Linked DNA regions of Homo sapiens: region 2 is linked to region 1. Evidence: fine-mapped expression QTL. A gene starts in region 1. The other region holds a variant in brackets. All regions are shown on one strand. Distances are from middle to middle.

Region 1 (4,380 bases):
GAGGCAGGTGGATCACTTGAGGTCAGGAGTTTGAGACCAGCCTGGCCAACATGGTGAAACTCCGTCCCTACTAAAAATACAAAACATTAGCTGGGCATGGTGATGGGTGCCTGTAATCCCAGCTACTTGGGAGGCTGAGGCAGGAGAATCACTTGAACCCGGAGGCAGAGGTTGCAGTGAGCTGAGATCACGCCATTGCACTCTAGCCTGGGTGACAAGAGCGAAACTCCGTCTCAAAAAAAAAAAAAAAAAAAGGCTGGGCATAGTGGCTCACGCCTGTAATTGTAGCACATTGAGAGGCTAAGGCCGGAGGATCACTTGAGCTCAGGAGTTCAAGACCAACCTGGGCATCATAGTGAGACCTCGTTTCTATCTTAAAAAAAGAAGAAAAAAGTAGGTATAATAAAATACGTTGGGAAAAAGTCCTAGAATGCTTGCTAAACAATAGGTAAATGAACACTGATAGCTAAGGTGTAAGCAAGAGGAATTGAGTACTGTGATGAATAATTTTCTTTTGGGTTTTTTTTGTTTGTTTGTTTGTTTTTTGGTTTTTTTTTTTTTGAGACAGAGTCGTCTCGCTCTGTAGCCCAGGCTGGAGTGCAGTGGCGCGATCTTGGCTCACTGCAAGCTCCGCTTCCCGGGTTCACGCCGTTCTCCTAGCGCAGCCTCCCGAGTAGCTGGGACTACAGGAGCCTGCAACCACGCCCGGCTAATTTTTTGTATTTTTAGTAGAGACGGGGTTTCACCATGTTGGCCAGGATTGTCTCGATCTCCTGACCTCGTGATCCGCCCGCCTCGGTCTCTCAAAGTGCTGGGATTACAGGCGTGAGCCACCGCGCCCGGCCTTTTTTTTGGTTTTCTTTTTTGAGACAGAGTCTTGCTCTGTCACCCAGACTGCAGTACAGTGGCGGGATCTCAGCTCACTGCAACCTCCGCTTCCCGGGTTCAAGCGATCCTCCCAAGTAGCTGGGACTACAGGCCCCCGATGCCACAGCAGCTAATTTTTGTATTTTTAGTAGAGATGGGGTTTCACCATGTTGGTCAGGCTGGTTCTCAAGTGATCCACCCACCTCGGCCTCCTAAAGTGCTGGGATTATAGGCGTGAGCCACCGCGCCCGGCCTTCTTTTCTTTCTTTTTACAAAAATAATCTTCCCTGCTAGATTCTCAACTCATAAAAGAGCTCTATGATGATGGAGAAGGATGAGTTATCCAGTAGAGTTCATCAGCGACAAGCTGATAACCACTTTTGAGCTGAATTCTTTGGTGGAGGAAGGAAAGAGACAGCTGAATCTGTGTTTGGGGAAGTGGTTAGTACTTAAAAACATAAGCCATTAAAGACTGTGAAATATCCCAGGGAATGAATTTCCATAGTTCTTCCTGCTACTCACAACTCCCACCCCACCCCACTACCCTCTCTCCCCCATCGAAGAGCACCAGATCTTGTCTTTCTCATACAACCAATAGAAGGAGTAAGGCTGGAAGGCAGAGAGAGAGCTGGAGGTCGCTACGGGTACTCATTGTAGTTCCCCTAGAAAACCATCTTTAAAATAATTTCGTAGGAAGTTGGGCGTGGCGGTGCACGCCCGTAGTCAGCACTTTGGGAGGCTGAGGTGGGAGGATCACTTAAGCCCGGGAGTTTGAAGCTGCAGTGAGCTGTGATCACGCCACTGCACTCCAGCCTGTGTGTCAGAGCAAGACCCTATCAAAAAAAAAATTCGTAGAAGTCTAAGCCCTTTTTTTCTAGTAACCCAAACCGCGTGAGTTCCTAAGTTCTTTTTGTTATTTCTCTTCTCTTGAAACTTAAACTCTTGCCTGAGCTCTGAAGATAAAGGAGGAAAAGGGGTGGCATTACCGATAGCGACTAAGCGACAGGTAGCTGAGAAACTGAGCTCTGACTGGAAAAAAGGGGGAAACCCGCACCCCCAAGAGGCCCTAACGCGCAGAGCAGCAAGACCCTCCGGGGCGCCGCGGGAGCGCGCAGCGCGGCGGGTAAACTACAACTCCCAGCGTGCCGCGCGCCCGGCGTTGCGCCGCGCCCGCTGATTGGCAGCCGCGGATATTTGAAAGGAGGGTCTGGCGCGGAAAACGAAGGTTACATTTTGGATCCTCGCGGAGTACTGGTCAGGCGGTTAAGTCCTGTACCTAGGAAAGAGGGCGAGCTCTGGGGCGGTAAGGCCGGAAGGGACTCGTGAGCGTGGGTACGTGCTGAAGTGAAGGGGATCCCCAGCGCTGACGCGAGGAGAGGCGTGGGTGGCTCCTGGAGGGAGTGTCGGGAGGCCTTGGGACTGCCCCGGGCCGCTGAAGGGCTGGGCCGAGGCCTCTGGGGTAGCGCGGCGAGTGGTGTGGTAGTGCGGTCGGGGATCTGCCCGGAGGAAGGAAGAGCGGAATCGTCCTTTTATAACGGGAGCACGGCGTCCTGGCGTGGGTTTTCTCCCCGATGAAATTTCTGATGTGATTCTTTGCCTCCTTCCACGACCTTCAGCCCTCTTCCCTTCCTCCAGTTAGCTTCATTAACAATCTTCTCTAATTGGTCTCCTTTTCCCTAGCTCTCCGGTGTCATGAGGAGCTTCAAAAGAGTCAACTTTGGGACTCTGCTAAGCAGCCAGAAGGAGGCTGAAGAGTTGCTGCCCGCCTTGAAGGTGGGGGTGCTGCCTGGCTCGGGATACACCTGGCTTTCCAAACTGAGCTGTTTTGTGTTTGCCTTTTGAAGAGATGGATAAGTAGGCGACCCTCTCTGAGTAACCCTATTTCTAGTTACTTTCTCTACCTCTTTCCTGCCTTTGCTAGCCCCATTCATATCTTTCTCTACTCCTAGGAGTTCCTGTCCAACCCTCCAGCTGGTTTTCCCAGCAGCCGATCTGATGCTGAGAGGAGACAAGCTTGTGATGCCATCCTGAGGGCTTGCAACCAGCAGCTGACTGCTAAGCTAGCTTGCCCTAGGCATCTGGGGAGCCTGCTGGAGCTGGCAGAGCTGGCCTGTGATGGCTACTTAGTGTCTACCCCACAGCGTCCTCCCCTCTACCTGGAACGAATTCTCTTTGTCTTACTGCGGAATGCTGCTGCACAAGGAAGCCCAGAGGCCACACTCCGCCTTGCTCAGCCCCTCCATGCCTGCTTGGTGCAGTGCTCTCGCGAGGCTGCTCCCCAGGACTATGAGGCCGTGGCTCGGGGCAGCTTTTCTCTGCTTTGGAAGGGGGCAGAAGCCCTGTTGGAACGGCGAGCTGCATTTGCAGCTCGGCTGAAGGCCTTGAGCTTCCTAGTACTCTTGGAGGATGAAAGTACCCCTTGTGAGGTTCCTCACTTTGCTTCTCCAACAGCCTGTCGAGCGGTAGCTGCCCATCAGCTATTTGATGCCAGTGGCCATGGTCTAAATGAAGCAGATGCTGATTTCCTAGATGACCTGCTCTCCAGGCACGTGATCAGAGCCTTGGTGGGTGAGAGAGGGAGCTCTTCTGGGCTTCTTTCTCCCCAGAGGGCCCTCTGCCTCTTGGAGCTCACCTTGGAACACTGCCGTCGCTTTTGCTGGAGCCGCCACCATGACAAAGCCATCAGCGCAGTGGAGAAGGCTCACAGTTACCTAAGGAACACCAATCTAGCCCCTAGCCTTCAGCTATGTCAGCTGGGGGTTAAGCTGCTGCAGGTTGGGGAGGAAGGACCTCAGGCAGTGGCCAAGCTTCTGATCAAGGCATCAGCTGTCCTGAGCAAGAGTATGGAGGCACCATCACCCCCACTTCGGGCATTGTATGAGAGCTGCCAGTTCTTCCTTTCAGGCCTGGAACGAGGCACCAAGAGGCGCTATAGACTTGATGCCATTCTGAGCCTCTTTGCTTTTCTTGGAGGGTACTGCTCTCTTCTGCAGCAGCTGCGGGATGATGGTGTGAGTTAAGGACCTGGAGGTAGGGTGGGGACGTGGTCTGTGGACTCACTACCAGCCTAGGGTATTTGGCAAGATCTGGAGGTCCTGGCTCCCTCCTTGTTAAGCTGCTCTCTGGACAGTGCCTAGCGAGCCAGCAAACAGCCTAGTCTATCCTGAGAGGGCAGTGGCCCTTCTGGATGTCCTTCCTCGTGCTCCCTGGGCTCTGTCAGCTCTCCAGGACTCCGGGTCAGTCTTCAGCTTGGAGCCCTCTTTATCTCTACTCCTCATACCAACCTTCCGCTTCCTTCCTCAGGTGTATGGGGGCTCCTCCAAGCAACAGCAGTCTTTTCTTCAGATGTACTTTCAGGGACTTCACCTCTACACTGTGGTGGTTTATGACTTTGCCCAAGGCTGTCAGGTACTGTCTGGGAATCAAGGTACCTGGACTAGGCTCATAGGGTTTGGGGTTGCTCCACTGCCCTCAAACAGCTTTGGGGTTGCTCCACTGCCCTCAAACAGCTTT
Region 2 (4,380 bases), 20 kb after region 1:
CATACCCAACTTCCTGTCCCATTCACCCACCTGTGACTGCTCGCTCTGCGCCAGCCCTGTCCTCACAGCAGTCTGTCTGCGCTGGGTATTGGTCACGGCAGGGGTGAGGCTGGCCATGGGCCACCAAGCCCAGGGTCTGGATCTGCTGCAGGTCGTGCTGAAGGGCTGTCCTGAAGCCGCTGAGCGCCTCACCCAAGCTCTCCAAGCTTCCCTGAATCATAAAACACCCCCCTCCTTGGTTCCAAGCCTCTTGGATGAGATCTTGGCTCAAGCATACACACTGTTGGCACTGGAGGGCCTGAACCAGCCATCAAACGAGAGCCTGCAGAAGGTTCTACAGTCAGGGCTGAAGTTTGTAGCAGCACGGATACCCCACCTAGAGCCCTGGCGAGCCAGCCTGCTCTTGATTTGGGCCCTCACAAAACTAGGTGGCCTCAGCTGCTGTACTACCCAACTTTTTGCAAGCTCCTGGGGCTGGCAGCCACCATTAATAAAAAGTGTCCCTGGCTCAGAGCCCTCTAAGACTCAGGGCCAAAAACGTTCTGGACGAGGGCGCCAAAAGTTAGCCTCTGCTCCCCTGCGCCTCAATAATACCTCTCAGAAAGGTCTGGAAGGTAGAGGACTGCCCTGCACACCTAAACCCCCAGACCGGATCAGGCAAGCTGGCCCTCATGTCCCCTTCACGGTGTTTGAGGAAGTCTGCCCTACAGAGAGCAAGCCTGAAGTACCCCAGGCCCCCAGGGTACAACAGAGAGTCCAGACGCGCCTCAAGGTGAGGTGGGACTGTTGCTAGGTGGTGGTGATGGTGTTGGATGGGGTTAGTCCTGGAGGAGAGTGTTTTATAGAGCAGGTGTCCCTGTGGAATAGCTCCCCAGGGCCTAGTGGAACTTTAATCTCCTGCTATCTGCAGTACCCCAATATCTTGCTTTTTTGTTTTTTGTTGTTTTTTTGAGAAGGAGTCTCGCTCTGTCGCCCAGGCTGGAGTGCAGTGGCGCAATCTCAGCTCACTGCAAGCTCCGCCTCTTGGGTTCACGCCATTCTCCTGCCTCAGCTTCCCGAGTAGCTGGGACTACAAGCGCCTGCCACCATGCCCAGCTAATTTTTTGTATTTTCAGTAGAGACGGGGTTTCACTGTGTTAACCAGGATGGTCTTGATCTCCTGACTTCGTGATCCACCCGCCTCGGCCTCCCAAAGTGCTGGGGATTACCGGCGTGAGCCACCATGCTCAGCCTCTTTTTTTTTTTGAGACGGACTCTCACTCTGTCGCCCAGGCTGGAGTACAATGGTGCGATCTCGGCTTACTGCAACCTCCACCTCCCGGGTTCAAGCAATTTTGCCTCAGCCTCCCGAGTAGCTGGGATTACAGGCGGGTGCCACCACACCCAGCTTATTTATGTATTTTTAGTAAAGACGGGGTTTTACCATGATGGCCAGGCTGGTCTCAAACTCCTGACCTCAGGTGATCCGCCTGCCTCAGCCTCCCAAAGTGCTGGGATTACAGACGTGAGCCACTGTGCCAGGCCAACATCTTTCACAGCAAGACCTATTTCCAAGTCTCCCTTTGTTTCAGACAGAGACATTTTCCTTAACTCTAATGTTTCTTTTACCTTTTCATCCCACCTTCTGTTCCCTCATTTTCTCCCTCCTTCCACACCCAAGAGTCGCTGCCCCTGATCTAGAGTGTTGGCTGTCATGTGAGAAGTTAGTTCTGAAATCTTCCAGGGTCCTGTGTGATGGTGCCTGATGGTGCCTCCACTACGCCACCTGCTGTCACAAGGTGTCTTGTCACTGAAGACCTCTTAGCCCTTCACCCTTTCACTCTGATCTCAGGTGAACTTCAGTGATGACAGTGACTTGGAAGACCCTGTCTCAGCTGAGGCCTGGCTGGCAGAGGAGCCTAAGAGACGGGGCACTGCTTCCCGGGGCCGGGGGCGAGCAAGGAAGGGCCTGAGCCTAAAGACGGATGCCGTGGTTGCCCCAGGTAGTGCCCCTGGGAACCCTGGCCTGAATGGCAGGAGCCGGAGGGCCAAGAAGGTGGCATCAAGACATTGTGAGGAGCGGCGTCCCCAGAGGGCCAGTGACCAGGCCAGGCCTGGCCCTGAGATCATGAGGACCATCCCTGAGGAAGAACTGACTGACAACTGGAGAAAAATGAGCTTTGAGATCCTCAGGGGCTCTGACGGGGAAGACTCAGCCTCAGGTAGGACAGCAAGGGTGAGGTGGAAGGTGCATGTTTTGGGGGTTTGTTCTGGGGCAAAGCACAAGCAGTAAGTGCTGCCAAGGAAGTACAGGAAGAATGTTCTTTTGCTGACTCTAAGGGAGTGGATTACAGAAGGAAGAACAAAGAGAATGGCAGGGGGAGGGAGCACTGTGAAAAAGGCCTGCTCTCTCCCCAGGTGGGAAGACTCCAGCTCCGGGCCCTGAGGCAGCTTCTGGAGAATGGGAGCTGCTGAGGCTGGATTCCAGCAAGAAGAAGCTGCCCAGCCCATGCCCAGACAAGGAGAGTGACAAGGACCTTGGTCCTCGGCTCC[G/A]GCTCCCCTCAGCCCCCGTAGCCACTGGTGAATATGCGACCCCTGATGTTGGTCACTTGGAGAGGGCTGAGCCTCTAGGGCTTTTGACCCCTCTGTCTTTCCAGGCTGGGTTCGGATCTGGATCCAGTAGCCTCTGAACCTGTGTTTGAACCCCAGCACTCTGTCTATGAGCTGTGTGCAGGTCACTTAACCTCTCCAAGCTTCTATTCCTTCTGTAAAAATGGGGTTTAGGGAGCATGGTGGAATAAGTTGATGCCTGTTAGTTGCATGGCACCCCACTTGGCACATTGCCCTTCATAAATGGTAGTTGCTGTTTGCCATGTGGGAGATGAGATAGGGACTGTTCCTTCTTGGAAAGTTCCTATCAACTATGAAATAAGGAATTCAGCTGTACCAAGTGTCCTGACGTTCTTCTAGGTCTTTCTACCCTGGACTCCATCTGTGACTCCCTGAGTGTTGCTTTCCGGGGCATTAGTCACTGTCCTCCTAGTGGGCTCTATGCCCACCTCTGCCGCTTCCTGGCCTTGTGCCTGGGCCACCGGGATCCTTATGCCACTGCTTTCCTTGTCACCGAGTCTGTCTCCATCACCTGTCGCCACCAGCTGCTCACCCACCTCCACAGACAGCTCAGGTGGGTGCTGACCATCCCCAAGACTCCTGCTGGGGCAGACTAGAGAGAAGGTCCAGACTTTGAAGGAATGGGACCTCACCCCTCCCCGTGTTGCTTGCAGCAAGGCCCAGAAGCACCGAGGATCACTTGAAATAGCAGACCAGCTGCAGGGGCTGAGCCTTCAGGAGATGCCTGGAGATGTCCCCCTGGCCCGCATCCAGCGCCTCTTTTCCTTCAGGGCTTTGGAATCTGGCCACTTCCCCCAGCCTGAAAAGGAGAGTTTCCAGGAGCGCCTGGCTCTGATCCCCAGTGGTATGCGGGCAGCCTTCTGGCCGGCTCCTCTGTCCTCTTCTGCATCTTCTTACTTGGGAGCTGGGTGAAGGAGTTTTAGGCATTGGTTAGTTTACATAGATTTATGACCCTTATGTCATACCTTTTCACCTGTTAGCATCTTACATCAGGAAGGTTTGTTGTTTTTTTTAAACCTCAACTTTGAATTACCAGCAAATTCAGTGTCTTTCCTCAGAGGTGAGTTCAGATGACTGGGGTCTTCTGTGCTAACATGAAACATATTCACATGATTTGAGTGCCTCACTTTGTTAGTTGCTGTGAGGGACACAAAGTACAAGTCATGGTCTCTGTGCACAGGGAGCTATTAGAGCAAGGGAGAGCACCTTGACCTCTAGTGACCAGGGAAGGCTTCTTGATGCTGGCTTGAGTGATGGATAGGAATTGAGTGCCCAAGACAGGGAAGGGAATTCCTTTAACAGCTGAATGAGTCTGGCTGTATCCTGTGTGTCAGGGGTGACTGTGTGTGTGTTGGCCCTGGCCACCCTCCAGCCCGGAACCGTGGGCAACACCCTCCTGCTGACCCGGCTGGAAAAGGACAGTCCCCCAGTCAGTGTGCAGATTCCCACTGGCCAGAACAAGGTAGGATTCCTGGGCCATGGAGCAAAGTTGGGCTGGATTGGGCTTCGGGTCAAGCTGCTCACATTCTGTGTTGAGGGAGGGAGAGATGGTGATCACGTGGACAAGCAGAGCTCTCACAGCCCCATCTCCCAAAGCTTCATCTGCGTTCAGTCCTGAATGAGTTTGATGCCATCCAGAAGGCACAGAAAGAGAACAGCAGCTGTACTGACAAGCGAGAATGGTGGACAGGGCGGCTGGCACTGGACCACAGGATGGAGGTGTGTGCTTCTGGGGTGGGGTCAGGCCTGCTCTAGGAATGACCCGGGGGG

What was found. PIP is the estimated chance that this variant, and not a neighbour inherited with it, causes the effect.
Region 2: its variant is the best candidate, but not a certain one, in a credible set for the expression of ESPL1 in tibial nerve (GTEx, PIP 0.68).

What each region holds. Positions count from the first base shown.
Region 1 is chr12:53,266,208-53,270,587 of GRCh38, forward strand. It overlaps ESPL1 (extra spindle pole bodies like 1, separase), which reads left to right and starts at 2,092. Exons shown (of 31, transcript NM_012291.5): 1 at 2,092-2,170; 2 at 2,548-2,640; 3 at 2,817-3,878; 4 at 4,171-4,275. The coding sequence starts at 2,560. RefSeq lists enhancers at 2,029-2,398, 2,459-2,538.
Region 2 is chr12:53,286,141-53,290,520 of GRCh38, forward strand. ESPL1 (extra spindle pole bodies like 1, separase) reads left to right here. Exons shown (of 31, transcript NM_012291.5): 18 at 1-772; 19 at 1,832-2,201; 20 at 2,398-2,559; 21 at 2,950-3,163; 22 at 3,264-3,454; 23 at 3,945-4,072; 24 at 4,207-4,329. Among named protein-coding and RNA genes, the nearest start is that of PFDN5, 7.2 kb to the right of the region's middle. RefSeq lists an enhancer at 4,323-4,380. The variant G/A (reference allele first, on the strand shown) is at 2,533.